Regions from separate parts of the Homo sapiens genome. Here regions 1 and 2 are each reported to be linked to region 3. Evidence: microRNA targets listed by miRTarBase, many of them from high-throughput screens and not tested one by one. Region 3 holds a microRNA gene; each other region holds the end of a gene's coding sequence.
What was found. The annotated mature microRNA hsa-miR-5700 reads UAAUGCAUUAAAUUAUUGAAGG and lies in region 3 at 3,356-3,377, opposite strand. An mRNA with a match to its seed (bases 2 to 7 or 8) in the 3' UTR can be bound and repressed. Matches are read on the target gene's strand: a 7mer-m8 pairs with bases 2 to 8, a 7mer-A1 pairs with bases 2 to 7 and ends in A, and an 8mer does both.

Region 1 (10,764 bases), not on the chromosome of region 3:
TGTGCCTTTTAACACAGAATGAGGACTAGTAAGGACAAGACATGAATACATTGTCTCTAGAAAGATGATTAAAGAATAAAATTGGTAACACTGCATATTGTGTGCCAGAATGAGGTTATATCAGCCTTAGAAATATTTAGAAACTCTATCCATGACAGCATTATGGAGTAGATTAGAATTAAAAATTCATTCATTTTTTAGAAGGATTTTCATTGTGAAGCACTGCCAGTCATCCTTCCTTTCCATGCTAAATCTGAAATTATCATCTCCCAATCCTTCCAAATCCCTCTCAATTCTTGCTCTCCTTTCCTTCCATTTCTCCTTCTCTCATCTCACAAGCTATTCTGCATTAAAGAAAGATGGACAAAGACTTTCGACTTTGATGAAGAGAGGTGAAGTCGTAGAAGCAAAACCTGCCAGGCCAGTGACTGTATACAGTATCTCCCTTCAAAAATTCCAGCCACCATTTTTCACATTAGGTAAGATGGAGAAATTTGAAATCATTTGTATTTACGTGTATTTTTAATTTGTATTTGGCTACTTTTGTGTCATTTTAATAGATCCGTAGGATGTTGGAGATTTTTTAAAATTTGAATTTAAGGAAAGTTAGGATTTCTTTATACCTTTTTTGGTAACACATTTAATGAGATACCTGTAGCTATATGGAGGTTCAGAAATGCGTTTCTAACTGGGCTGACTTTTTCATATATTGTACTATGTTATCTTACTAGAAAGTTGAAAGTAACATACTTTAGATCTCTATAGAGAAGAGTAGGTAAGGAGTGTATATACTTTTTAAATTTTAGGTTTTTATTATCTTTTGGATGCTTTTCCTCCCATTTTGGCTAGTACCTAATACATTCCGTTTTAGAACTGACATTAATTTTCCAATGAAAACAAAGCATTTTTAGTTTTTGGACAAGAAACCCCTCACTCCCTTCTTCACCACCTATCACTTACTATTAAAGATCCTGCAAATATGGAAAAACATGGGTAAGGCAGAAATGTATTCCTGAATACATGGTCACATTTTTAATTCAAGTTATGAATTTTAATTTCTAATATATATTTGAAATGTAAAGACTAAAAAGTTCATTTCTGTTGTTTGGAAATTTTATGATCTGGCTGCAGAAAGTTGTAAACATGTAAGATCTGTGAAGAATCCAAAGCCGTGGTTCTTAATCCTCAGACTCCTTTAAATTGAGCCTACCCTTAGTTTCACAGTGCACTGAATAGGATTCCGTTTAGAAATAATGTCCCCAAATCTTTTAATCTAAACTCTATTGCTTTTTTATTGGCATTATTGTTTTATCTGTGTTGTGTTTCTGCAGGATATGGTTTTGTACCATTAGAAAAAAAAAGTCACTTTGTTTCTTCATGTTCCTGCTTCTAAAATATTTGACAGATAATGAAAAAAACACACTTAGGAAGGTTGTGCTCCATTCCATGGAAATGAAGCAGCTGGTTTGACACAGTAGATATTCTCTATGAAAGCAAGAAAAAACTCAGATTTTTCAGATTGCATTTAAGTCAGAAATATTTTATTGACTAGGGAGAGTGTAACGGGCCAAAAGAGCTGTCTTTTCACTCAAGTCAAATATCACGCAAGAGTGCTAGCGCGCCTGCATTTCATCCCAGTGCCCACTTTCAATTTCAGCAGTGGCCCCCAACCATGAGCTGACTAAAGAAAGCAGGGGGTGATTAAAATCCCCAGGTGGTGAGTTTTGATTAATTCCCCCAAATGGCTTTATTTGTACCAGTAAGACTCGAAGCAGCTAGAATATAGTCCTTTTGTGTGGAAATGTGGCAGCTCTTTTCAGGAAGTCTTGCTGATGGATAAAAATAATGGAGAGCTCTGTTCTTAACCAATAAACTTGTGTTAGATTGTGTTAAGAAGATATTTAGATTTACATTCAGTTCTGGGACATTGTGCAATTTTAAGTTGTTTTATGATTTCTTCAGGAGTATTTCCAAGAGAACATTTAAATAAACTGAGTTCTTCATGTGTAGTACGGTACCCTAAACATAATTCTTGTCACTGTGAAAAGGGGTTTTTGGTTGGTTGGTTGGTTGGTTGTATTTTTTTTGAATGTACAAGTCAGAAAATATTTTAAAAATCTACCGCTCATGATGGCAAAGCTGCCATTTCTAACCATTTACAACCTATTAAATGAACAAGGCATATAAATCTGAAAATATTTTTTAAAATCTCAAGCTCATGATAGCAAAGCTGAGATTTCTAACTATTTAAAACCTATTAAATGAACAAGGCTGAAGTATTAAAGTGGTATGCCTTGCCAGTTAATTTAAAATGTGTTCATGAGTTTGTGCTGTTTGCTTTCTCCACACTCTGACTTTTCAGTCTCACAAACACATATGCTACTGGATGAATAATTTATGTTTTAGTGCATAAATATTTTATCACTCAATTGTTTGCATAGTGCATTTTTACATTTGTTTAGGGACATCATTTCTATGTAAAGTGGATTTCATAGGAGGTTAGCAATTTACTATGTCACTGTTAACATTCCAGATGTTGAATGTGGAGGAGGTTTTTATATCAGAAGCTTGGTCAGTGACATTGGAAAAGGTAAGCATAAAAATGAATTATGAATTATCATTTAGAGAATAATACTCCTTTTCAATTGGAAGAGGGAATTTTCCGTTTTTCTTATTTCTGAGTACTGGCCTTAGGAACTGAACTCTTGCTGCCTTCAGCTTTAAAAGCATTGTAGGTTTCTGGCTTGCAATTATCAGCCTCAGCAGCTGCAGTGAAATGTTTGTAATGGGAAAGAAGAGAAAGAGAGAACAGAAAACGAAGACAGGAATAATGAACGTAGGGCCAACATCTTTTCAAGTACAAAAGATTTTAACTCAAACTAGGGATCAAAAAAAAAAAAAGATTTAACCTTCTAAAAGTTATTTTCAAATTTTTTTAAACTGGAAGCCGTAGTCTTATAAACAGCCAGAAGGTTTCGGTTCTGGCTGTGCCATTTACTGGCAGTTGTCGCACTGGACAGGTCATATGATCTCATCTGTAAAGTGCGGCTAATCTTTACTCCATGGGGTTGGCTGCATGAGTTAAATAACAAAAATGTGTGCAAGTTCTTTGTTGATTTTAAAGCAGCTTATAAGGTGGATTATTAAGTATTATTTTGCTACTTAATCATTTCTTTATCTGAGGCCTCTTGGTTCTTATATTGGATTATTATACTTTTGGGTGGTTTTGAGAGATTTCAATTGAGTACGGTCATTTGAACAATTACAGACTATGAAATACTGAATCGTTTATCTTCTGGATTTTTTTTCTACCTTTTGTTGCCATAGAACTATCTTCCTGTGCCAATGTGCTAGAGCTGACCCGAACCAAACAGGGACCATTTACGCTAGAAGAACATGCCCTTCCTGAAGACAAATGGACAATTGATGACATTGCACAGTCTCTTGAGCATTGCTCATCTCTTTTCCCAGCAGAGTTGGCACTTAAAAAATCAAAACCTGAGTCTAATGAACAGGTTTTGAGCTGTGAATATATAACTCTAAATGAGCCAAAGAGAGAAGATGATGTAATTAAGACGTGTTGAGATTGGCCTGGGAATATCATCATTTTCTAGTTGACATTTGAATCCTGTGTGCAGATGCAGAATGACAAGCTGCATTCAAAAGACAAACAATATGTCTTTTTTTTTTTTGCATGAAGAAAAATGTCTATCATTTACAGTTTCAATAGCACATAATTTATTTTCTATGCATTATAAATGGCCTTGCAGTTGGCTCAGTTGTTTGTTGTGTTGTGAAATGTTTTAGGATTTTTTGTATTGTGAAAATATGAATATGATTGGATTCAGAAAAATTAACTTTCTGAATTTGATCTGTCTTCAGTCTTGTGAAAAAGTTGAACAAATTTCCTAATCAAAGAAAAAAGTATGAGCTCCATGTTTCTTTAGTTTCACAAAAATGACCATAATTTAGTGTTATTTTTACTTTATTTAGGCTTCCTGGTGGCTTCATTTTATTGAAATTCTTTAAATTGTTTAAAGTGGCCATTATTGATCTCTTTCTTCTGTTTTGGAGAGTTTATTATTAAAAACATTTCTTTGATAAAATGGCCATCATCTAGTAATACCTGTGTTTGTTTAGATCTTGGAAATGAATAAGCTTTGATAATATTTGTAAATGAACCAAATTATTACTGCTACCACTAACAGGTTGTAAATAGAAGACTAATACTTAATTAAAGTCACCTTCCTACCATTAGAGCAGAAGACAGCTCCTATAGTTTTGTATTTTGGCAGCTATGAGATATTTTCATGGTAATGTCAACATGGTCAAGCACTTTGTACCAAGTTATTAAGTAACATAATTTTTAAAATTTAAAGAATGTGTCTTCAACTAAAAACTTTATTCTTTAGCATTTATTTATATTTCTCTGTAGGGTGTTCCCTGTGACATTGTCTCTTTAGTTTGCTCTTTCAAGAGATACTTACAGATGTTGAGATGGCTGCCCTGCATTTCCAGCTAATCTCTTCTGCTCTAAATATTTAAAAACAGTTCTTCTCAAACATTTTCATTCAGATAGCTTTCTGAAAGTTCCCTATCCCTCTTTACCATAATTTTTTAAATGTAGCCACATTGTAATAGTAAACTTCATATATAATGAGTGCTTCATATTTTTGTTATGGGAAAGCAATATATTATGCAGCCAGTCTGTAGAAACATTCAGATCCCTCTTCCTTTACTCAAATACAGTTTCAAAAGGAAGACTCATGAGAAATTTCATAAAATACAAGTTTTTAGATGTTTATGCTTTGCCTTTCTTTTTAAAGGTGTTTTCCTGCTTTGTAGTCTCTAACTCTGAAATTTAAAATATGTAAACTAAAGTGGTTTTATTTGTGCTTAACCCAATTTAAACTCAATGTAAAATGTTATATATGCATCAGTACAGCATTTTCAACATATTGGCAACATATTTTAAATGAAAACACTAAAACAATTCTTAGTATGAGACAAAACTGTAAGGAAAAAGAGTGTTAATACCATGATGCATTAACATAAAATATCAAACACACAAAGTCATAAAATGAAAATTTACAGTTTTACCTGTTCATATCTAGTGCCCCACAGTGTGTGTCAACCAAAGGTGGCAGTGGCTACATCTGCCTGTTGGACTGGTACAGGTTACAATATGTCCTCTTCCATTGCAAATTAAAGTCCAAATAGAGAAATACTTAGGTTTTAGAACACATCAGAGGTATTTCTGCTGTATTTTTCACCTTAAAAATTGACACAGAGTTTACTAATAGAGGAGTAGAGATTGTTGACCATTTTTAAAAAACGATAGCCACTCTTTTTCTTTTATGTTTAAAACTGAAGTTTTGCCAAATGGGAAAATTACTGTTACCTCTACCATCTTAATGTAGTAACTTTAGAATTTAAATTTTTATATTACTATTTTCCTTTTTGTTGTTCACATAGTCTTAAGGCACCTATACTTTTAAATTGACTTTTTCATTTGATATTATCTATATGTATGTAGTTGTGATAATGATTATTTTAATTATATTACTTTATACTCTTAATTTATTTAGAGTATTTCTCTATTGCTGAATACTTAAGTAGTTTTAAATTTTATTATGATAAATTCCTGGGAGGGGGATTATTTAGTGAAATAATATGAAGAACTTTATGACTTATGTTTGCCTTATTGCATTCCCAAAGAGTTGTAACATTTTACAGTGTTACCATTTGAGTAGGGGTTTTATATGTTGTTGCTAATTTAGTAAACATAGGAGAGAAATCAAAGTTTTTCTGATTTGCTTTTATGTGATTTATCTGTATACTTTGTTCATTTATATAAATAAATGTCTTAATGGTTTCTATACATATTTGCATGAGTTATTTGTGTTGTAAATACCTGATAGAAGGATTTTTCACGGTCTGTTGTCCTTTTAGTTTTAATTTTCATTTTTGCTAACTAAATTTGCTAATTCTAATAACTCTTCCCCTTTTATCATTGTCAGATTAATAAGTATGAAAAATTTTAAATTTATTGAGACTTTAAAATCTTACTAACTCTCATAAGCAGTTGAAACTGAGATACTCTGAAAAGTTCAAGACTCATTCATAAAACAAATTAGTTTTCCCTGATAGTCTGGTATTTAAATACCAACTCAGTTTTTTTTTCATTTTTATCAAAATATTCAAGAAATTTCTGTGTCTTATATTTTTCTAGGTCTAAACCTTCATGACATGATAAAGTTGTTTTACTTGTAAGAAAACGATAAAAGATTTAAAAAATCCTGAAAATGTTTCAACCTGGAACATACCAAATCACTTCATTTTGACACTTTAAGTTTTTTATATTTGAAAAATAATGTCTTAAAAGTTGTTAAAAGTCATAGAATTATTTTATTTATAGTCTTAAAATCCAGGACCTTTATGTAATAGAAATTTGCTCTTTGCAAATTCAAAGTTTTGAAATGTGAATAAAGGCTAAACACAGTTTCCTCTACCTGTACTGACTAGATATTTTTTTCTTAAATACTTGAATTAAAACAAGCCATTGACTCATCATCAGAAATGAGTTACTGTATTAAATAAGAGTGCTTTGTATCAGATCTTCAGTACATTTTATGTCCCCTGACCAGTTTGAAATTTGTATCAGATTTACAATGAACATTTTGAGGTTCAATTAGATGGTGAATTGTTCTGTTTCAAAGAAAGTAAGTAATTTACCTTATATCATGATGTATACAATAGAAAGAGATGTGATTCAAAAGCACTGTAAAATGCCAAAACATTTAAATAGAGGAAACGATAATAGATATGAGGTTTATGCACTGAAATGAGTATAATGGCCTTGTAGTTAAATTTAAAGAGAGGGATTGTCTTGAAACCATTTCTTTCTCTAAGGTATGTATGGGCAGAGCTCTAGATTGTCCTAATTCTTCATTAAATACTATTTATTAAGCACATTTATTAAGGTGTTGAATCAGTAGTACCTTCATTTGTTAATGTGTGAGCTAAATTCTCTTTATGAATAGGAATATCTTCAGATTGCTGCTATAAATACTGATACCGGCCGGAAAGTTGAAGTTCGGGAATTATTTTGCTCTTCTTATCCTTAACCCTTAAAATGCAGCATATTAACTTTATTTCTGTCTTTACCGTTAGTCAACTTTTTGATCCTAGGTGAATCACTTAATCTCTTTAGGTCTCAAGTTTCCTTATCCTTACAACAAAGGAGACAGACTAGTCCATCTTGAAGAATCTCTCCAATGCTAAAATATTAGGCTTCCAAGTGTAGATAATTTGTGATTATTTTGCTTAGGAACTCATTCCTCATGAACTTGAACTTTTATATTTATCAGTTCTGGGGAATTCCCATCCTTCATTTCTTTGGATATTTCATCTCTTCCAGCTAGTAATCCTATTTAAGTCTTTTTGTTTTATTCTGTGTCTAATTACTCTTTCATATTTTCCATCTCTTTATCCCACTGTGCTGCATACTGGGGAATTTCCTCCAATCTTTTTTCCAGATAATGAATGCCTTTTTCTATTTTTATTTACTGTTTAACAATCATATATTTATTCCAATCACTCTTGTGTTTTATTTTTATTTATTTATTTATTTTGACACAGAGTCTCACTCTGTTGTCCAGGCTGGAGTGCAGTGGCGCAATCTTGGCTCACTGCAACCTCCGCCTCCCAGGTTCAAGTGATTCTCCTGCCTCAGCCTCCTGAGTAGCTGGGATTACAGACGTGCATCACCATGGCCAGCTAATTTTTTTATTTTTTATTTTTAGTAGAGACGAGGTTTCACCATGTTGGCCAGGCTGGTCTTAAACTCCTGACCTCAGGTGATCCTCTCTCCTCGGCCTCCCAAAGTGTTAGGATTACAGACATGAGTCACTGTGCCCCGGCCTTTTGTTTTTATTTCTACACCAGGTTTTTTTCCTCCAAAATCTGCCTCTTCTTTTTTCATGTGTTGTCTTAGTCTTTCATTAAGGTTTTAGTAAAAAAAATATTTTTTTTACTTTGGTATTTAATATACAGAAAGTCACACATAACTGTATAGCTTAGTGAATTTTCACAAACCAAACATGTCTATAATCAGCAACCAAGTCAAGAAACAGAACATCACTAAGCCCTCCAGAAGCCCCTACTGCTCCATCAAGATTATAGATTAGTATTTCATGTAACAATATAGATTAGTAATTTTGTCTGTTTTTGTGCTTCATATAAATAGAAGTATGTGATATGTTTTCTTTTATGTCTGGCTTCTTTTGCACAAAGCTACAATCATGAGGTTCTTCCATATTGTGGCTGTCTTAGCTTGGGCTGCTATGACAAAATGTCATAGACTGGGTGACTTTAACATACTTGTTTCTCACAGTACTGGAGGCTGGAAGTCTGAGATCAGGGTGTCAGTGTGGTTGGGTTGTTGTGAGGGCTGTCTCACTGGCTTGGAGAGGGCTACCTTCTCATTGTGTCCTCACGTGGCTGAGAGAGGAGGCTTTTGTCTTTCTTCCTCCTCTTATAGGGACGTTAACCCCATCATAGTGGCTCCAATCTCATGACCTTGTCTAAATTTAATTACCTCCCAAAGGCCCCACTTACTGTTCATTGTCATTGTTTACTATTATTCAGTTATTACCACTGTTGATCTATTTTACTGAATGATGGACACTTGGTTAGCTTTCAATTTTGACTATTTTGAATAATGCCTCTATGAGCAATGTAATACTTGTCTCCTGGTAAACATGCACACATTTCTGTTGGAATTTTTTTTTTTTTTTTTTTTTTTTTTTTTTTGAGACGGAGTCTCGCTTTGTCACCCAGGCTGGAGTGCAGTGGTGCCATCTCGGCTCACTGCAACCTCTGCCTCCCAGGTTCAAGCAATTATCATGCCTCAGTCTCCTGAGTAGCTGGAAATAGAGGCACACACCACTATACCCAGCTAATTTTTTTGTATTTTTAGTAGAGACAGGGTTTCACCATATTGGCCAGGCTGGTCTCAAACTCCTGACCTCAAGTGATTTGCCTGCCTCAGCCTCCCGAAATGCTGGGATAACAGGCGTGAGCTACTGCGACTGGCCTCTGATGGATATTTCTAAGACTGGAATCTAGGTTGTAAAGTATACACGTTAAGCTTTAGTAGATAGTGCAAGGAGTTTTTCTAAGTTGCTGTACCAGCAGCATATGGGAATTCTGATGGTTCCACATCCTTATCACCACAAAGTATTTTACGTTTTCTTCTTAACCATTTAGGCACATGTTTACTTTATCACAATATGGTTTTAATGAACTTTTCTCTGATTTCTTAGGGTTTTTAGTTATGTGTATTTTTTAGTCTAATTTTCTATGTAGTCTACTAGTCTATTTAGTCTTATTGTCTAGTCTAACAGTCTCTGTTAACTCAGTTATCTGAAATTCTTATGGAGTATGCTCTAATATTGCTTGTTGAATCTCCCAATTCTCAGCCAAGGTAGATTGTGTCCTACCTTGTGTTCTTTGTGTTGTAAACTTGGATTATGAGGTAATTCAGTGAGACTTTATGGGAGTGTGTGTGCTTGGGTTGAGAGTGTCCTTCCAGAGAGATTTTGGGATTGTTTCTGCTAGGCACACCAGAGATATCGCTGTTCCAAAATCCTCATCGTAAATGATCATTGCAGAGATGTTTTATTATTGTTGTGTTGTGTTTTGTTTAATTTAAAGCCTAAGTCAAAGAAAAGCTTCCTTGTTTTCGCCCTGTGTTTATGGTAAATTGCATTGTAGTCTACCATTTTATTAAATGTATAGTCCTTTAAGGGTACCAGTTTTATGCCTATGTTTGTGGGTGTCACAGTTCCAAAACCTGCCTCTCAAGATCCACACTTGGTTTCCATCCCCACTTAAAAGGCAAACACTTTGGTTACAGAGAGGAGTAAATCTTGCCTCCCTCCCCCACTACCTGGATTGCTGTAGCATCAAGAAGTATGTTTACCACTCTGGGTTTCAGATCGTTCTTTGTTTTGGACCCTGGTGAATTTCCTTAGTATAAGTTCAATTATTTTTTAAAGGAATTTTTAAAAAGTCACATTTATATGCAACAAAATTCACCATTTTAAGTGTATAGTTCATTGAGCCAGCTTGAGGTTTAACTTGCTCTTTTTCTAGTTTTAAAGTAGAGGCTTAGGTCACTTCTTTTTAAACTTAAGCATTAAATCTTATCAGTTTTTCTTTGAGCACTGCTTTAGCGGCATCTCATGAGTTATTATAAGCTGTGATTCAATTTAAAATAATTTCCATTGTGATATTTCACTTTACCTATTACTTAGAAGTATATCATTTACTTTCTGGATATTAGAGGATTTTCTATATAAAATTCTCTAGTTGATGTCTTGTTTAATTTCATTGTGGTGAGAGAATATAAAATACATGAACATAAAATGTGTGATTTCCATTCTTACAAATTTATTAAGACTTGTTTAGTGACTCAGAAATGGTCTACCTTGGAATTTGTTCCATGTACATTGGTTAAGAATGTGCTTTCATGGTTGTTGGGTGGATCATTCTGTAAATATCAATTAGGTCAAGCTTGTTGCTTGTGTTATTCAGGTCTTCCATAGCCTTAATGGGGTTTGTTTTGCTTTGTTTTGTTTTCTGTTTTTGGTCTACTTTGCCTATCAGTTACAGTGAGAGGAGACCTGCAATCTCCAATTATAATGTTGGACTTGTCTGTTTCTTCTTTCAGTTCTTTTTTTTTTTTTTTTTTTTTTTTTT
Region 2 (10,152 bases), not on the chromosome of region 3:
TGAACCCGGGAGGCGGAGCTTGCAGTGAGCCAAGCTCGCACCACTGCACTCCAGCCTGGGCAACAGAGCGAGACTCTGTCTCAAAAAACAAAACAAAACAAAAATACTGAAACCAGCCTAGTGTTTACCAGTAGAAAATTAGGTAAATAAGTTTGGTACATCCACATGAGTATAATTACAGTTCTTAAGTTACATACTGTCTACCAAATGCCTAGGAAAGCCATCAGCAACCATTCTGTTAAAGCAGGTAGCTCCCATTTTTCTTTGTTTTCAACATCCTGCTTGTTTCTTTGATGTCACTTCTCATAATTTTTGTAATTTTGTGTGTGTGTTAAAGTTTTTTGGTTTTTTTTTTACTTAATGTTTAAGATAACAAAATGGCATGCACACAGAAAAGCTAGGAAATAAAAACATGAGAACATACAGATTATTTCAGTTGTGAAAGTAATTCCTTTAAATGTTTCTTTCATTACACATGCTTTTTTAGGTTGCATTTGGAGGGAGGTAAATGTAGTAAGTATTACTACTTGGGGTTTTTCAATTAACTCAAAATTCTGACTCTCTTTGTTGCAGTTTGCATTGAGACTCCTTGCATTCCGCCAGATACACAAAGTTCTAGGCATGGATCCATTACCGCAAATGAGCCAACGTTTTAACATCCACAACAACAGGAAACGAAGAAGAGATAGTGATGGAGTTGATGGATTTGAAGCTGAGGGGAAAAAAGACAAAAAAGATTATGATAACTTTTAAAAAGTGTCTGTAAATCTTCAGTGTTAAAAAAACAGATGCCCATTTGTTGGCTGTTTTTCATTCATAATAATGTCTACATTGAAAAATTTATCAAGAATTTAAAGGATTTCATGGAAGAACCAAGTTTTTCTATGATATTAAAAAATGTACAGTGTTAGGTATTATTTGAATGGAAAGACACCCAAAAAAAAAAATGTGCTCCGACTAGGGGGAAAACAGTAGTTCCGATTTTTTCCCATTATTTTTATTTTATTTTCTGGTTGCCCTAGCTTCCCCCCCTATTTTTGTGTCTTTTATTAACTAGTGCATTGTCTTATTAAATCTTCACTGTATTTAATGCAGGATGTGTGCTTCAGTTGCTCTGTGTATTTTGATATTTTAATTTAGAGGTTTTGTTTGCTTTTTGACACTAGTTGTAAGTTACTTTGTTATAGATGGTATCCTTTACCCCTTCTTAATATTTTACAGCAGTACGTTTTTTTGTAACGTGAGACTGCAGAGTTTGTTTTTCTATATGTGAAGGATTACAACACAAAAAGTTATCCTGCCATTCGAGTGCTCAGAACTGAATGTTTCTGCAGATCTTGTGGCATTTGTCTCTAGTGTGATATATAAAGGTGTAATTAAGACAGAGTTCTGTTAATCTAATCAAGTTTGCTGTTAGTTGTGCATTAGCAGTATAAAAGCTAATATATACTATATGGTCTTGCAACAGTTTTAAAGCCTCTGCATAATTGATAATAAAAATGCATGACATTCTTGTTTTTAATAGACTTTTAAAATCATAATTTTAGGTTTAACACGTAGATCTTTGTACAGTTGACTTTTTGACATAGCAAGGCCAAAAATAACTTTCTGAATATTTTTTTCTTGTGTATAAGTGGAAAGGGCATTTTTCACATATAAGTGGGCTAACCAATATTTTCAAAAGAACTTCATCATTGTACAACTAACAACAGTAACTAGCCCTTAATTATGGTGACAGTTCCTTATTGGTGTGTGTGAGATTACTCTAGCAACTATTACAGTATAACACAGATGATCTTCTCCACACACCCCATCACCCAGATAATTTACAGTTCTGTTAACAGTGAGGTTGATAAAGTATTACTGATAAAAAATTATCTAAGGAAAAAAACAGAAAATTATTTGGTGTGGCCATCTTACCTGCTTATGTCTCCTACACAAAGCTAAATATTCTAGCAGTGATGTAATGAAAAATTACATCTTACTGTTGATATATGTATGCTCTGGTACACAGATGTCATTTTGTTGTCACAGCACTACAGTGAAATACACAAAAAATGAAATTCATATAATGACTTAAATGTATTATATGTTAGAATTGACAACATAAACTACTTTTGCTTTGAAATGATGTATGCTTCAGTAAAATCATATTCAAATTTATTGAGTACTGCATCTTGTTATTCCTGACAAATGTTTGTTGTCTAAGCACATAATTTTCAGAAAATTTTGTAATTCAATACTATATTGGCTTAATTTCTTTCTAGGGTCAGAATCTACCCCCAAAGTCTTAGAGGGTCAGAATCTTCCCCCAAAGTCTTAGAGGGCCAGGAAACTGTAGGAGACCACAGGGGAAATAGAACAGGAGACTCAGACTTTTCTCCCAGATTCATCACACACAGATTATCTAATCTAAAAATCTGAAAATTGTCAAAATCTGAAACTTTTTGAGGGCCTACATGACATTCAAAGGAAATGCTCATTGGACCATTTCAGATTTTCAGATTAGGGATACTCAACTGATAGAAATATTCCACAATCCAAAACACTTCTGGTCCCAAGCATTTCAGCTAAGATATGCTCAACCTGTACTGTCTGTTTAACTTGGACAAGGCTTTTTTTCCCTTTGTAAATTTCTCTGGGCCTCATTTTACTCTCCTTTAGAATTTCGTTCCTCAACAATTCTCTTGGAAGAATGCTGGCCTGGCACAATGGCTCACGCCTGTAATCCTAACACTTTTGGAGCCCGAGGCAGGCAGATCTGCTTGAGCTTAGGAGTTTGAGACCAGCCTGGGCAACATGACGAAACCCCGTCTTTACTAAAAATACAAAAATATTGGCTGAGCATGGTAGAACGTGCCTGTAGTCTCAGCTACTCGGGAGGCTGAGGCAGGAGGATTGCTTGAGCCTGGGAGGTCAAGGCTGCAGTGAGATCACACCACTGCACTCCAGCCTGAGTGACAGAGTGAGAGCCTGTCTTTAAAAAAAAAAGGAGGGGAACTGACCTTTACTACACGTTGATTCTGGGCGCCATGCTAGGTCTTTTTATGTACTTTCCCATTTAAAACTATCGTAAGTGAATTGTAGGTAGTATACATCATATTTTTTCGATGAGGAAACGAGCCCAGAATGGCTAAATGAAGATTATACACCTTATGTCACTGTTTAAGTGACAGTTTCAAAGTTCATGGTCAGCACTTTGCCAGGCTGCTTCCTTCACCCTCCAATTATGTACTAAAGATGTTTTCAGCCCATCTGGGACCAAAATTTTGCATTTGGTTTGAGTGTCTTCATCCAAAAATGCAATTGGTACCATTTAAGTTTTTTACTAAAACAATTATTTCTGTATTTTCTACATAGCTTGTTTTCATAGCTGTGGCTAGACCCACATTAGTTATATGAAAGAGTAACTTGGATTGAATATTCCTTAGTATCCTCTGACAGTTCTTTTGTTTGGTTGTTTTGCTTTTTGAGACAGGGTCACGCTCTGTCCCCCAGGCTGGGGTGCAGTAGCACGATCATAGTCACAGCAGCCTCGAACCCCTGAGCTTAAGCAATTCTCCCGCTTAAGCCTCTCAAGTAGCTAGGTCTAGAGGTGTGCGTCACTACACCCAGCTCTTTTTTTGTAGAGATGGAGGCCTTGCTGTATTGCCCAGGCTGGTCTCAAACTTGTGGTCTCAAGCAGTCCTTACCCACCTCGGCCTCCTAAAGCACTGGGTTTACAGGCATGAGCCACCACACCTGGCCTGATTTTTTTGTTGTTGTTTGAGACAGTCTCGCTGTTGTCACCCAGGCTGGAGTTCAGTGGCGCTATCTTGGCTCACTGCAACCTCTGCCTTTCAGGTTCAAGTAATTCTCGTGCCTCGGCCTCCCGAGTAGCTGGTATTACAGACGTGCACCACCACGCCCAGCTAATTTTTGTATTTTTAATAGTGACAGGGTTTTGCCATGTTGGCCAGGCTGGCCTTGTGAACTCCTGGCCTCAAGTGATCCACCTGCCTTGTTCTTCCAAAGTGCTGGGATTACAGGCTGGCCTGATTTTTTTAAGTCAACAATATTGTAAATAATTTTTCTGCTTACTGAAAAAAAGCAGAAGTCTTGTTTTTGCATGGTCATTACATTATTATGTTATGAATTTATAAGCAGTTCCTTTAGAGGAGCCACCATTTTTTGAATTTGACAGAGCCGTTTTATTAAAAAAAAAATTTCCCAGTAAAGGACAAATACTGGCCAGGCACAGTGGCTCACGCCTGTAATCCCAGCACTCTAGGAGGCCGAGGCGGGCAGATCACCTGAGGTCAGAAGTTCAAGTCCAGCCTGGCCATGGTGAAACCCCGTCTCTACTAAAGATACAAAAAATTAGCCGGGCGTGGTGGTGCACACCTGTAATCCCAGCTACTCAGGAGGCTGAGGCAGGAGAATGGCTTAAAACCAAGAGGCGGAGGTTGCAGTGAGCTGAGATCATGCCATTGCACTCCAGCCTGGGCAACAAGAGCAAAACTCCGTCTCAAAAAAAACAACAAAAAAAAGGACGAATATAGGTCATACAAAGATGATAATGTTCATAGCAGTGGTCTGAAACTTGACTGTTCATGAGTCATCTGAGGAACATTCTAAAAGTTAAGATTTCCGGCCAGGCATGGTGGCTCATGTCTGTAATCCTAACAGTTTGGGAGGCCAAGGCAGGCAGATTCCTTGAGCCCAGGAGTTCAAGACTAGCCTGGGCAACGTGGCAAAACCCTGTTCTAAAAAGTTAAGAGTTCTAAATCCTAACTGCAAAGATTCTTATTGAGATAGGCCAGAAAAGCCTGAGAATCTGCAATTTAAGATGACTTTATATTAGGTAATTTACTTGAATGGGTGGTTCATACACATGATATAAAAAAAGTTGACAGGTATAAAGTGATACATAGCATAAAACAAGTATTCTCCTTTACCTTGCCTTCCAATTATGTTACTTCCCTTCCAAGAGATAGTGTCAGCTCTTTGTGTGTCCTTCCACAGATGATCACTGTATGTGTTAGCATGAATGGATGCATCGTGTTTGTTCTTTACAAAAATGATAGCATACCGTGTATGATCTACACCTTGCTGCTTTTTATTTAAGGTATCTTGGAGTCTTGGAGGTTATTATGTATCAGTACACATAGAGAAACTGCATTTTTAACAATCACTATAGGATCATTCCAAATTAGATTTTTTGTTTTTCTTAAATTTTATCTGGGAGACTACGCCATTGCACTCCAGCCTGGGTGACGAGCAAAAATCCATCTCAAAAAAAAAAAAAAAAGCTGGGCACGGTGGCTGATGCCTATAATCAACACTTTGGGAAACTGAGGCAGGTGGGTCTCCTGAGGTCAGGAGTTTGAGACCAGTCTGGCCAATATGATGAAACCCCCTCTCTACTAAAAATACAAAAATTAGCCAGGCATGGTGGTGGGAGCCTGTAATCCCAGCTACTCGGGAGGCTGAGGCAGGAGAACGGTGTGAACCCAGGAAGTGGAGCTTGCAGTAAGCCAAGATCGTGCCACTGCACTCCAGCCTGGGTGACAGCAAGACTCTGTCTCAAAAAAAAAAAAAAAAAAAAAGCCAGGGAGCGGTGGCTCACGCTTGTAATCCCAACAGTTTGGGAGGCTGAGGCGGGCAGGTCACGAGGTCAGGAGTTCGAGACCAGCCTGACCAACATGGTGAAACCCCATCTCTACTAAAGATAGAAAAATTAGCCAGGCATGGTGGCGCGCACCAGTAATGCCAGCTACTCGGAAAGCTGAGGCAGGAGAATCACTTGAACCCAGGAGGTGGAGGTTGCAGTGAGCCAAGATCGCACCACTGCACTCCAGCCTGGGCAACAGGGCGAGACTCCGTCTAAAACAAACAAACAAAAAATGTACATGGTTCTGATACAAATTGTGGATCATGCTTTAATAAATGCTTTATAGCAGTGACCATAATGTACTATACAATGCAAAACTAAACTATATTTTAAATTTAGTATTAAGTGTATTTTGTCATCAGCCAAATCGTGTATATATAGTTATCAGTATGTTAATCGGAATATTAAGCAAATCGTAATATCCCCATTCCCTAAGGAATTTTTTTTTGATACTTCAAGTTTTACGGTACATGTGCACAACATGCAGGTTTGTTACATATATATACATGTGCCATGTTGGTGTGCTGCACCCATTAACTCGTCATTTAACATTAGGTATATCTCCTAATGCTATCCCTCCCCCCTCCCCCCACCCCACAACAGGCCCCGGTGAATTTTATTGATTACCTGTAGTCTCGGTAATTTTAGTCTTCCTTTATCTTGCTTAGTGTAATAATATTGGGTGTAAAATAAAATCTGGAAATATGAAACAGTTATATTACTAACTTAAAGCCTGAATTTTTTTTTTTTTTTTTTTTTTTTGAGACAGAGTTTTGCTCTGTCCCCCAAGCTGGAGTGCAGTGGCACAATCATGGCTCCCTGCAACCTCTACCTCCCAGGTTCAAGCCATTCTGCTTCAGCCTCCCGAGTAGCTGGAATTACAGGCAAGTGCCACCACACCTGGCTAATTTTTGTATTTTTAGTAGAGACAGAGTTTCACCATGTTGTCTAAGCTGCTCTCCATTTCCTGACCTCAAGTGATCTGCCGGCCTTGGCCTCCCGAAGTGCTGGGATTACAGGTGTGAACCACCGCGCCTGGCCTGAAAAATATTTTTTAACATTAATTAAGCTGATTCTATGTTAAATACAAAGCTAATATATTCACCTCATTCTAATATAATCCCAAGTGAGACATGCTATTTAATATTAAAGAAATTGGGTCTTTAGTTTGGAAAGGACTATTCAGTTTAGCAACAAACCTAATGTGAAAGCCTTTTTCTAAAAAAAGGAAGCAACCTATGGAATAAAAGTATGAAATTGATTAAATTTCATAAAATTTAATCAAATACGGAATAAAAGTATGAAAAGATTAAATTGATTGTAGGAACTGATTACTCTAAAAATACATGAAGATTAAGAGTTCAGGCTGAGTACAGTGGCTCACGCCTGTAATGCCAACACTTTGGGAGGCCCCAGTGGGCAGATCACCTGAGGTCAGGAGTTCGAGAACAGCCTGGCCAACATGGTGAAACCCTGTCTCTACTGAAAATACAAAACTTAGCCAGTGTGGTGGTGCATGCCTGTAGGCCCAGCTACTTGGGATGCTGAGGGAAGAGAATCTCTTGAACCTAGGAGGTGGAGGTTGCAGTGAGCCAAGATCATGCCACTGCACTCCAGCCTGGGCAACAGAGCAAGACTCCATCTCAAAAAAAGAAAAAGAAAAATGAGAAAACTTGATGACACAGGGCTTGTGTTTCTACATGGTAACAATTAGCTAAAGCTGAGAGTAGGGGCCACTCCCTTTAGAAGATAAATTTTAGACATAACCTGTTCTGAACAGTTTACCACAGCCTCCATCATTTCCTATTTGTCTACCAGGCTAGCCCTGTTGGCATTTGATTTTATTATATCTCAGACCCCAGACATTTTACCTATGTATTCTTCCAACTTTAACATGGAACCGTATCTGTTAAGTTTGGGAACAATCTCTAGTTATTTTCCATTCTAAATTTTTAAATTCTGTAATCAGGTATTTCCTATACATTAGGATATTTAATGCTCCTCTACTTAATGTAACAGACAGCCACAGAGAAACACTTGCACTTTCTTCACTGATTTTTTTCAAAAGAAATATCAGGAAGAAGGCCTGAAATTTAAGCAAGCTACAGCCTTAAGAAAATCCATCCTTTCATTGGAGAGACCAAATCCATTACCTTCTGAAAATCTCAGTCACGTTGGAGTAGCCTGCCTGTCATCCTGTCTGCTCTCTGGACTAAGAGAAAGAGGTAGAAGAAAGGGCATTGGGAGTTGAAGAAGAAGAAAACATAGATGAGCTAAAAGGAAAATAAGATATTTCTAGATGACAAAATTTCTAATTGTATTGTTACTGGAAAGGGGTCCCAATTTCTTGGATCTCACATGAGAAAGAATTCAGGGCAAGTCCATAGAGTAAGGTGAAAACAAGTTTATTAGGAAAGTAAAGGGATAAAGAATGGCTACTCCATAGGCAGAGCAGCAGCCTGGGCTGCTCAACTGCTTATACTTATTGTTACTTCTTGATTATATGCTAAACAAAGGGTGGATTATTTATGAGTTTTCTGGGAAAGGGGTGGGCAATTCCTGGAACTGAGGGTTTCTCCCATTTTTAGACCATGTAGGGCAACTTCCTGACATTGCCATGGCATTTGTAAACTGTCATGGTGCTGGTAGGAGTGTCTTTAAGCACGTTAATGCATTATAATTAATGTATAATGAGCAGTGAGGATGACCAAAGGTCACTTTCATCACCATCTTTGTTTTGGTAGGATTTGGCCAGCTTCTTTACTGCATGCTGTTTTATCAGCAAAGTCTTTGTTACCTGTATCTTGTGCCAACCTCCTATCTCTTCCTGTGACTACAAATACCTAACCTCCTGAAAATGCAGGCCCATAGGCCCATAGCCTTATTTTACCCAGCTTCTATTCAAGATGGAGTTGCTCTGGTTTGAATGCCTCTGACATATTTTCCCCCTGCCTTTTATAAGAAAACCCTTAATCCTGAGTTCTAGAGGGACAAAGATCCATCTTCTGTAACTTCTTCAGGGTGAGTAAGGGCAATGATATTCCTGGTTAACAAATTAGGGTCTCTTGTATTTGTGGTAGAGAGGCACTCAGTAAGAAAGCATCAGTATGGTGAGGGCCATTCATAACTTTGAGTTCCAACAAAAGGTAATATCTAGAAGATTAATAAGTGTTCAATTTAAGAAAACATTCAGTAAGCTTATCCTGCATTCCTACACAAAGAGTACAACAGCAATATATTCCACAACAGTAAAGCAAAATAAGTAAAATTATCCCAAGTAAACTAAATAGAAGACTTTCCATGAACTGGGCAACTGTTGGAACCAAGCTGATACAGGGTTGCCAGCTGATTCCAATATGTGCCTAGAATTAGAATACTTATCCAGACTTTTTTCACAGTACCCATCCATCTCTCTTGTTTCTTCTAAGCTGTAGCCAAAGATCACTGGTTGGTTCACAGGAATAAGCAGTCGGTCTAAATTGCAGAATAAAAAAAAACTTAAAAAATACTGATGAGACTAGAATCTAATCACAGGTGTACCATTGTTCTTGAAACCTGATTTTTTTCTCTTTCCAGTCTTCCATTTTTACTAAAGACAAATCATACTAAGACCGATTTGCTTGCAAAAATAAGCTTTTTTGAAAAGATAAATCAGGTAGAGAGAAAACAAATATACTCCAAATTTTGTTCATGGGAATATACTTTACTCAATTGTTAAAAGCTGTAAATAGCTCAAAAGAAAAGTTGTCTTGACTCCGAAAAACAAAACAAAGGATTAGCAATATTTTAAGCAAAAGGTCAAAAAAGATTACTTCAGTCTTCCATTAGTTCAGTCCTTGAAGTTAACTCCTGTTGATATTCATGAACATTTCAACTCTCCATGAGAGTCCTGAAAGTTTTTTCCTCTATTCTAGTGTAACAGTCTTCAAAGTTGTCAGGAACCTGCATTCAACAGCACTTGTCAAAGTCCTACAGCTAATTATACACCACCTTTTGAAGAGGATTAAAACAAAACAACAATAGTCTGTGGATGACAAAAACTCTTAGACCAGCCATTATTTAAGCCACAATGGATTAGGAATTTTGGTTACCTCTATGGTACACAATAATTTTACATAACAATTATAATTATTAATAACATACACTATGTCATATCAGAATTATAGGAGTTTCCCATAATTTTGGAACACATACCAATAATGTATTTATACAAATATAGTGCAAAGAAAGCCACCATTTCATATTTGGCAATGCTTCCTATATGATTTTTATACCAAATAAACCAGTTTCAGCTTTGCATTAATGTACTATTAATGTTAAACCCAATTCTTAATAAAACCTTGGCTGGGTGCAGGGGCTCATGCCTGTAATCCCAGCACTTTGGGAGGCCGAGGCAGGCGGATCAACTGAGGTCAGGAGTTCGAGACTAGCTTGGCCAACATGGCAAAACCCCGTCTTTACTAAAAATAGAAAAAAATTAGCTGGGCGTGGCGGTGGGC
Region 3 (10,764 bases):
AAAATTCTTAACTACAGTAGCCCATTCTGTGCCCTGGAAAATGGAGCATAGCTGAATATTTGGAAATCTTATGGGGAACAACTGTTATTTTGCACACTTTTGTCATTTGATGTCTGAGGATGAATACAGACAATGGAAGTGATTGAATGAAATATGTGTCCAGCCCAGCATATTCCTAAATGTTGCATTAGGGAAAACACCTTACCAATTCTGTGTTTCCCTGAAAAAAAAAAAAAAAAAAAAAAAGAAATGGGGAAAAGTTATGTTAGTTGGTTTCAAGCTTCATTAAGCATAGTGCTATAGAATAAAGCAGTATTTACCAGTTTTGAGTAATGTATGGATTTTTTCTTTTTTGAGACAGGGTCTCATTTTGTTACCCAGGTTGGAGTGCAGTGGTGCCATTATAGCTCATTGCAGCCTTCATCTCCCAGGCTCAAGTGATCCTCCCGCCTCAGCCTCCCAAATAGCTGGGACTACAGGCGAGTGCTACCATACCCAGCTAATTATTTTATTTTTTGTATAGACAGGATCTCACTTTGTTGTGCAGGCTGGTCTTGAACTCCTGGGCTCAAGTGATTCTCCCACCTTGGCCTCCCAAAGTTTTGGGATTACAGGCATGAGCAGCCATGCCCCACCGGATTTCTAATGTAAGAAATTATTTTGGGCCGGGTGCTGTGGCTCATGCCTGTAATCCCAGCACTTTGGGAGGCCAAGGTGGGAGGATTGCTTGAGCCCAGGAGTTCAAGACCAGCCTAGGCAACATAGTGAGAACCCCCCTGCCATCTCAAAAAAAAAAAAAAAAAAAAAAGAATTAAAAAAAAAAGAAGTTATCTTGTACATTTGAGGAGGTCCATAGTCACCATTTGACAAAGTAACTTAAAGTCTTAATAACAATAATAGCCTTTTAAAATTTGCAATTAAATCTATGAATATCTGCAGCCCCACATACAGAGTTATTTTCTAAATAGGTATGATTATGAGATGTAGAAATTTGTGGGTCATGTAAGGAACATGGCAATACCAAACAGCACCTTTCTGGGCATTCATAGATTTGGGATGATACCTGGCATTCTTTGACATTTACTGTGTACAATGTACTGTGCCAGGTGCTTTACTTGCACTATCAAATATAATCATTCCAACACCCAACAAGACAGGCACTATTATTTCTGCTTCGTAGATGAAGAAACTGAGGTTCAGAGAGGGAAAATAGTGAGCAGCATCAGGCAGCAGGTACTGGGGGATCCCCAAGCTTGTGTGACTCTAGCCTTTACGGGTGACCGCTACCCTACACTATAATAGAAGGAATTGAACAACTGGCTTCTTGTCAGTCAGGGATCACTTTTAATCCTAGGACTATAGCAATCAATAATGTGGTTACAAATTGTGCATTTCCATCTTCATGCTGCTGGCCATACAAGGTGAGGGCAGAGATACCTGAAGCTAGCATCCTTGATTTTTGAAGAGCCATGAGCTGACAGATTTGTGGATAAAGAGAATGGAAAGCAATTAATTATAGAAACTTTTACACACTCCCTGGCTTCCTGAGATTCTTGAGGTGTGTAATTGGCTGTTGACGTGGCTGAGTGTTTCTCAGCTTTTTTGCTCAGCTCCAAGACAGTGAAGTCTCTGGTGGCTTCTGCTCTGAGGCTGCGTGACATCTGCTACCATCTGTGGTGGCTACCTCAGAAATCTCTCTCCTTGCTAAGCCAGCCAGAATCTCTCCCTTGCCAGGCCTTTAACTTGACTAAAGCAGTTAACAGGAACATGCGTCAGCCATGTTAACAGCTGTTTTGTTGGTGGTTACTCCGCTCTGGCTTAGGCATTGAGAATTGGATTTCTTTTTTTCTCTTTTCCTTTTTTTTTTTTTTCCCGTTGTGCTTTAAAATAAGCCACTGAGTAGTAGAAATAAAATAAAGTCATGTACTTTCTGGTCTGTACTAGCAGTAAGGGACCCCATTTGCCAAAGAAGCTCTTGGAGGCCTGGATCCTTCTCTGATTCTTGGACTGTCAATGTCACAAGCAACAGTGCTAGCCTAGCCTTCTACCAGGGGTTTCCTCCCAAAGTGGTTTTGAATTCTCTTCCTTCATCATATTTATTCTGTGTTTTGATGCCCAGGTCTTGTAGCTCCCGGGAACAGTGAACTGTAAGACCCCAAAACTTAGGCCACAGGTAGAAGTTTATACATCCCCACACACAGTGGCTTAAGCAAGCAGAGACCCAAAGACATGCTTGGATTCAGAAAGGTGGCTGTCCCCAAACATGGTCAGAATTGCAAGGTGACTTCCTGCTATGCCTTGTCAACAACAAACAATTGACTAAGAAAATCCATGGAGGCCGGGCACAGTGGCTCACGCCTGTAATCCCAACACTTTGGGAGGCCGAGGCGGGTGGATCACTTGAGGTCAGGAGTTCGAGACCAGCCTGGCCAACATGATGAAACTCCATCTCTAATAAATATACAACAACAACAAAAAATTACTGGGCATGGTGGCGCGCACCTGTATTCCCAGCTACTCCAGAGGCTGAGGCGGGGGAATCGCTTGAACCCGGGAGGAAGAGGTTGCAGTGAGCCAAGATCACGCCACTACACTCCAGCCTGGGCAACAGAGTGAGACTCTGTCTCAAAAAAAAAAAAAAAAAAAGAAAAGAAAAAGGAAAGTCCATGGAAACCATGAATGAGAGGGAATGGAGGTGACCCATTCAGTCAATAAGCAATCATTCTCAAAAGAGAAGGTAGAGGGTTGCAGGGGGCCGGTGGCTGGCTCTCTGGGTGAGCTGGAGAGTGGCAGCTGTGTCCCTAGAGCAGGCGGGGATCCTGCCTGGCCAGCTGCACTCGGTCTTCTGGGTTTCTGGTTCACAGAGCTTGTTCATGGCCTCCCTGAGGCTATCGACTCTGTGCAGGCTCCAAGCCAAGCTGGCGACTGCTTGGCAGCCTCAGTGAACTCTTTCTACTGGGGACAGACTGAGCTGTCCGACAGGGCAGAACGTTTCAGCTCCTTGGCAGCTGTATATGCTTGAATGTAAATCACTACATTCGCTTTCTCTTCTCGGGGATATTCTTGTCAGAGTGAATCCGTTAGCATGAATCAGTTTCACAGGAGTGAGCACCTGATAAACTGATAGAGGCATTTCTGAACTCCATGACATGTGGGAAGCCCAGCTCGAAACTCGGGGGCTTTCCCCTTACTGGCAATTTGATTAAATGAGGATGAGGGGATGGGAGGGGTGGTGTTTCACCTCTGAGAATCTCCCCTTCCTAAACTGTTAACTGCCTAGGATTATAGGGGTTAGATGAGATCGTAGATGCTCAATAAATGCATTAAATTATTGAAGGCCTGGGGTGCCCAAGGGCCTTCAATAATTTAATGCATTAATTAATTAGTTTATTTATGTGAGACAGAGTCTCGCTCTGTTGCCCAGGCTGGAGTGCAGTGGCACAATCTCTGCTCATGCAACCTCCGCCTCCCAGGTTCAAGCTATTCTCCTGCCTCAGCCTCCTGAGTAGCTGGGACCACAGGCAGGCACCACCATGCCCGGCTAATTTTTTGTATTTTTAATAAAGACGAGGTTGCACCACGTTGGCCAGGCTGGTCTCAAACTCCTGGCCTCAAGTGATCTGCCCACCTCGGCCTCCCAAAGTGCTGGGATTACAGAATTTAATCCATTTATTGAGCACCTGCTACATGCCGTGCACTGTTCTGGGCACAGAGTACAAAACAATGTTACTATCCTCTTGGAGGTTACATTCTGGTGGGGGAGAAGTCAGGTGAAAATAAGATAATATTTGGAAGGGGGAAGGCCCAGGCTCTTGGCATGTTAAACTTACCTTGATATCCTTACAGAGAAAATGAATTTTCTGAGTGTTTCTTTGAATTTTTCAGCTCAATTTCACAGATAGCTATACAGCACAGCTTAGTAGACTCTTCCAAAGTAGAAATATTTCTGGGTCAGAGAGACTCGGCACAGCAGCAGGAGCGCTGGGAAGACCTGGGGTGGTTCTGTTTGGAAAGGGGATGAGATGCTCCTGTACTCCTGCTCCAGTGTTTTTGGCTTGAAATGAGTAACATGCAAATGAGCACCTGGGGCTGAGTCAGCAGTGAGTAACCCCCTCTGCGGGACGCCCAGCCCCGAGGCATACACGGGGCCGCCTCTACTGGCTACTGCACCCCGCAGATGCTTCCGCAGCAGACTCTGTGCCTCACCCCCGGCCCTTGCCCATGTCACCTGCTCAGTCAGAATTCCAGCTCAGGCCAGCGGGGCTCTGCTGATGAAAACAGCATTACCTGGAAGCCTGGGACTTCAGTGTTTCTTCCCGCAGCAAGTGCTGAGGAAGCCGCTGCCTTCCCTGGCACCCCCTTGCCGAATAGCTTCCCTTCTGCAGAGGGCTAGGGTCCCCACTTCATCAGGCCTCAGCTCTCCCCTCGGCTCACCCCTCCTTCATACCACTCCAGGCCTCTGTCCAAGACAGACTCCCACCTGGGCCTCCTGCCTCTTCTGAGAGCCGGCACCTCCTTCATCAGCACCTGTTTTCCAGTGGGTTCATTTCAGCATACACAGATGTCCAGCTGCTGCTGTCCTAAACCCACTTTTATGATCCTGCATTTCCTCAGCTCACTATTCCTTCTCTTCCCTGTCACTATCACGTTTCTTAAAAGAATAGTCTCTACTCCTCTCTCCCAGGATTTCTTAATCCACTAAAAACTAGTGTCAGCCCCCAGCACTCCCCTAAAACTTCTCTCAATGGGGTCACCGAGGACCCATTTGCACTTCTGGTGCATGCTTCACAGCCTGTGTTTTTACTAAACTTCTAGTCATTTCCCTTTGCGGTGCTCCCTCCCATCTGAAACATTTTGCTTCCCTTGGATATCTTCTTTCTTTTCTCCCTTTCTTTCTCTCTCTCTTTTTCTTTCTCTCTCTCTTCTTTCTTTCTTTCTTTCTTTCTTTCTTTCTTTCTTTCTTTCTTTCTTTCTTTCTTTCTCTCTCTTTCTTTCTTTCTCTCTGTCTCTCTCTCTCTCTGTCTCTCTCTCTCCCTCCCTCTTTCTCTCTTTCTTTCTCTCTCTTTTTTTTTTTTTTTTTGATGGAGTCTAACTCTGTCACCCAGGCTGGAGTACAGTGGGGCTCACTGCAGCCTCTGCCTCCCTGGTTCAAACAATTCTCCTGCCTCAGCCTCCCAAGTGGCTGGGATTATAGGCGCGCCACCACGCCCCGCTAATTTCTGTATTTTTAGTAGAGATGGGGTTTTGCCATGTTGGCCAGGCTGGTCTTGAACTCCTGACCTCAAGTGATCTGTCCACCTCAGCCTCCCAAAGTGCTGGGATTACAGGCGTGAGTCACTGCGCCCAGCCTGTTGGGTATTTCCTTGATGCCGCTCTCTGGTTCTCTTGCCACCTCTTGACCACCCTCTAGTCTTCTTTGGCTGCATTATCTCCATCTCACCCCCTTTGCACAGACTCCCCGTGATTCAGCCATCATCTCTAAGACTAATTCCACTGCCTCTATGTAGTGAGTACCTGCCTCTTTTCTGAGCCACAGACCATATTTCTATTTCCCCTTCATCTCTACATAGACATCCTTAGAGCACCTCAAAATATAAAACCAACCTCATTTTTTTGCCCTTACTTCAAATCTGCTCTATCTACACTACCTCATTCCATAAAGGCACCAACACCATCCATTTATTCACCCACCCAAGCTAGAAATCTTAAAGCCATTCCCCCTCTTTCTAACCAGTGCCATCTAATCGTGTCAAACTCTACCTTCTAAAGACACCCAAAACTTGTCCACCTTACTCTTTCCTACCTTGGTTCAGGGCACCATTATTTCCCCCCAGGAGAGTTGTAACAGTCTCCTATGTGGTCCCGGGTCTTCAGTTTTGCCCATACCCAATGCATCCACCATGTAAACTACCTGTGTGATCTAAAATGCAAATCAGATCATCTTATTCCACTTCTTAAAATTTTCAGTGGCTTCTCTTGCCCAGAGGGTCGTGTCTGAATTTCTGAGTGAAGCCCACTAGGTTCCCAGTGTACTGAAGTCCATGCAATGCCCCAGCCTCATCTCCCACCCCCCACCCCCATTGCATGCTCTACGCCTCAAGCCCTGAGCCCACCTTGCTATTTCATGCCCTTAGGTGACACACAAACACCTCCTCTGCCTGCAATCACATTTCTTCTCCTTCAAGACCCTTTCAGATGTCAGCTCTGCAAAGCCCTCATGTTCTTCTCCTCCTGACTCTGTATTCTGTAAAGAAATGCTGTCTAAATACCTTTTTCCTAGTTATTGAGAAGTGTTTCTTTTATGTCTGCTCCTGAAGTAAACAGTGAGTTCCTTGTGACCAGAGCATGCCCTTGCTCTTTCACTCATCTCGTCCTCCCACAGGACCTTGCCAAGTGTCAGGCACATATGTAGGTGGTGTTTAATCAATGCAATGAGCAAAGCAGCCCAGGTACTGTGAGAATGAAATATCTGGCTGGGCACAGTGGCTCACACCTGTAATCCTAGCACTTTGGGAGGCCAAGGCGAGTGGATCACTTGAGGTCAGGAGTTTGAGATCAACCTGGCCAACATGGTGAAACCCCATCTCTATTTAAAAAAAAAATTAGCCAGGTGTGGTGGCAGGCACCTATAATCCAAGCTACTCTTGAGGCTGAGGCAGGAGAATCGCTTGAACCTGGGAGACAGAGGTTGCAGTGAGCTGGGATGGTGCCACTGCACTCCAGCCTGGACAACACTGTGAGACTCCATCTCAAAAAGAAAAAAAAAAAAAAAAGATATCTACTGGGGCTATTTTCCTTTGCCCCTAGATTGTGAGCACTTGGTGGACTGGGAGTGTGTCTTTTTCTTATCTGCCGTACCTAGACAGCTGGTGTTCAATAAATAGTGTTGATTATGGTTGGGTTTACTACAACCTTCCAAAAACCCCCCCGATGCAAAGGGATAAAGATATCTAACTAGAATGCTGCCACTTCTGAACAGCTTTCTTTGACTTCAGTTTCCCTGATACTGACCTTTACCTCACCATGCCCTTCCCATTCTCTCCTCACCCCACACTAGGAGGAACTCTGGGCTATAAAGCTAATCTCATAAAATTTGCTGGAGTCTGAAGTCCACCCTGGCTAAAAAAAGAGCACACCTCAGAGCCCAGCCCAGGCTGACTTTAGGTACTTTCCACTTTTATTGAAATTATGACCACATTTCTGGAGTCAAAACAGGGAAATATGACTTACAAAGAACTTCTAAATGATAAAGGGAACAAGTTCCTCTTCATGGAATATGTCATTTTCCAGGCAGAGGGCTAAGGGGCTTTACATATTATCTCACTTCATCTACACTGCAGCCCTAAGAAGAAGCTACTGTCATCTTCTTACTTGACACATGAAGGAACAAGAGGCAATGGTGCTGAAAGGGTGAGAAATGGTACAGAAATGGTAGAATTGGAAATCAAACCCTCCTCTGTCTGATGCCAAACCATCAAGTCACTTCCAGGGACATGAAACAATCTGTGGCATGCCTTTGGGATCCTGAATTAGCAGAATTTCTGGGATTTCAGTGATTTATGAGAACACTATACAATTAGCAGTGTTTCTGTACACTAACAGCAAATTATCTGAAACAGAAATTAAGAAAATTCCATTTACAATAGCTACCAAAAATTAAAATACTTGGGAATAAACTTAAGGAGGTGAAAGATCTGTACACTGAAAACTAGAAACCACTGATGAATGAGATTGAACAAGACACAAATAAGTGGAAAGATATCCCATGTTCATGGATTGGAATAATTATTATTGTTAAAATGTCCATACTACTCAAAGCAATCTACAGATTCAATGAAATACCAATCAAAATATCTATGACATTCTTCACATAAATAAAAAAACACTTATGAAATATATATGGGATCCCAAAAGACCACAAATAGTCAAAGCAATCTTGAACAGAAAGAAGAAAGCTGGAGGTATCACATTACCTGATTTCAAAATATATATAAAACTGTGGTAAACAAAACAGCATGATCCTTCCGTAACAACAGACAGATAGACCAATGGAACAGAATAGAGAGCCCAGGGACAGAATATTAGAAATTTAGAATTTCTGATTTTGAGTTTTCTAGGATGTTTGAAAGCCATCTTCTCAGAATAGGATGGTCAGAAGGTATAGAGAGGGACCCAGCCTTCAGTTATAGTTATGCAGCCTCCCAAGGCCTGGCTCGCTCTCTTTGGAACCTCTTTGGAACTTCAGGGGCTTGAAGATTCCCATTGGGCATAAGGAAGTTGAGATCTGCTCCCAGGTTTTAGTACTTTATATTTATACATTATTAATGCATAAATAAAAATATAATATGTAATAACGTTTACTATATATTTAGAGATGTTCAGTTCTATATGTAAATCAATTTATTTGTTTAAATTTTTAAAAATTTTGAACTGATCATAAACTTAGTGAAAAGTTGGATGTTCTGTACAAAGAATTATATTTTTCCTGAACCACCTGAGAGTAACCATCAGTTGCCAACCTGATATCCGGTCACATGCAGTTACTCTAACGTGTAATTCCTACAGATAAAGACGCTCTCCTTCAAAACCATAATACAGCTGTCAGAATCAGGAAGGTAAATAGATGTCTTACTGACATCCAGTCCTTAGACCCCACTCAAGTTTCACCAATTGTCCCAATAATTGCCTTTGCAGCAAAATGACCTAGTTCAGAATTACAGGTTACCTTTAGTTATCTCTTTTGTCTCCTGAATGAAAGAATTCCTCCCATCTTTCCTTGACTTTCATGATCATGGCACTTTTGAAGATTATAGGCCAGTCATTTTGTATAATGTCCCACAATCTGGTGTTTCTTTGTGATTAAACTCAAGTTATCCATCTTTGGCCAGAACATCACAGAAATGATACTGTTCTCATTGCATCCTGTCACATAGAGCTCAGTTTCCATTTGTCCCATTATTGATGATTTTGCTTTGATAATTAAGGTGTCTTCTAGGCCCCTTCACTGTAAAGATGTTTTGTCCCCATGAGTAATTAATGAGGATTTAGTGGAGAAGTATGTTGTACCTCCCATTTCTCACCAAACTTTCAATTTATTCATCTATTTGCTAATATTAGTATGGAATCACTGTTTCCTATTTTATTCAAAGGGTTGTAATCCATGATTATTATTCATTTTAATAACAAGTTGAACCCTGTACAGCTGTGGGAACTCATTTAAGCAATGTTTTGTGTCCTTTTGCCATGTCCTCATTATTCTTTGAGCAAGCACGTGCTCCAGGCTCATGTTGTACTTTCCTTGCCCTAGACCTAGAACTGACCGTTCTTGTAAGGAGCCTGGGTTGCATTTGGTGGAAAACTGCATTTTAAAGCCAAGATCTGGATTCTAGGTTTGCTCTGCTATTAGGGCATCACCACTCCCAGGTCGTCATAGTAGACAGGGTAGGGAATACATTTTGTATATGGATATATGTATGTGTGTATAGTATGTAATGATACAGGTACATACATAGACATCTGTTATGGACTGAATCTTTGAGTCCCCCAAAATTCATATGTTGAAGCCCTAGTCCCAATTGTGATAGTATTTAGAAATGGGGCTTGTGGAAGGTAATCAAGGTTAAATTAGGTTATTAGGGTGGGGTCTTCATGATGGCATTAGTGGCCTTATAAGAAGAGAGGGCATGGCTGGGCGAGGTGGCTCACACCTGTAATCCCAACACTCTGGGAGACCAAGGCAAGTGGATCACTTGAGGTCAGGAGTTCAAGACCAGCCTGGCCAAATGGTGAAACCGCGTCTCTACTAAAAATACAAAAAATTAGCTGGGCATGATGGCACATGCCTATAATCCCAGCTACTCGGGAGGCTGAGACAGGAGAATCGCTTGAACCTGGGAGGCAGAAATTGCTGTGAGCCAAGATTGCACCACTGCACTCCAGCCTGGGCAACAGAGCAAGACTTCGTCTCAAAAAAAAAAAAAAAAAAAGAGCAGCAGTCTCTCTTTCTCATTCTCTCTTTCTGTCCCATGATGTAAGGACACAGTGTGAAGGTAGGGAGCAAGCCAGGAAGAGGGCCCTAGCCAGCATCTTGATCTCGGACTTCCCAGTCTCCAGAACTATGGGCAATACATGTCTGTTGTGTAAGCCACCCAATCTAGTGTATTTTGTGATAGTAACCTGAGCTGACTAAGACAATGTCTGTATTTATTTATATACTTATATGCATTTATATAAAAATTTAAATCTCTGCTGATTTCTGCATCTATGTCTATATTGAAAATCATGAGTGCGCACTAATACCTCCAATACCAATCAACACCTCTGGGTTTATTCAAGCTCTCCTTTCCATATTTGTAACTTCTTTCTCCTACAGTGAAAGCACGGACTTCCATTGTCTCTAACATATTTACTCATTTTCTCCACTCCCTCTGTATAACAAATTTCCCATCTCTGCTGCCCACATCTCCACCATGTGGGTGATGGTTGGGTACTAACAGTGCTGACTGCCTCGCCCTACTTGGATCTAAGACAACCTTGCTGGTGGCCCCAGTGCATGTACCTCCCTGCCACCCTCTCTGGCTTTGACACATGCTCCAGGCTGCCCATTCAAGGAAGCCCTCTTCCACCCTTCTGGATTGATGACTCTGCCGGGTACCCCCTCCCCTGTGTCCTCCTCCCCATGCCTGAGCTCGGCCACCCTGCTCTAGGCTACCAGCCCCTCCCACCATGGGTCCCTGCCTTACTCTGTTCAACTAACTGCTAATG

Region 1: miRTarBase lists TRUB1 as a target of hsa-miR-5700. Seed matches in the 3' UTR shown: 8mer at 3,748-3,755 and 8mer at 5,042-5,049.
Region 2: the mRNA of ZFR is a reported target of hsa-miR-5700. Seed matches in the 3' UTR shown: 7mer-A1 at 1,421-1,427.

Annotation. Positions count from the first base shown.
Region 1 is chr10:114,971,796-114,982,559 of GRCh38, forward strand. TRUB1 (TruB pseudouridine synthase family member 1) reads left to right here. Exons shown (of 8, transcript NM_139169.5): 6 at 340-479; 7 at 2,534-2,590; 8 at 3,328-5,881. The coding sequence ends at 3,584. Among named protein-coding and RNA genes, the nearest start is that of LINC02626, 17 kb to the right of the region's middle.
Region 2 is chr5:32,346,361-32,356,512 of GRCh38, reverse strand. ZFR (zinc finger RNA binding protein) reads left to right here. Exons shown (of 20, transcript NM_016107.5): 20 at 574-2,163. The coding sequence ends at 753. Among named protein-coding and RNA genes, the nearest start is that of MTMR12, 38 kb to the right of the region's middle.
Region 3 is chr12:94,554,407-94,565,170 of GRCh38, reverse strand. It overlaps MIR5700 (microRNA 5700), which reads right to left and starts at 3,382; the gene lies at 3,312-3,382. RefSeq lists enhancers at 1,735-1,804, 3,845-3,954, 3,754-4,380.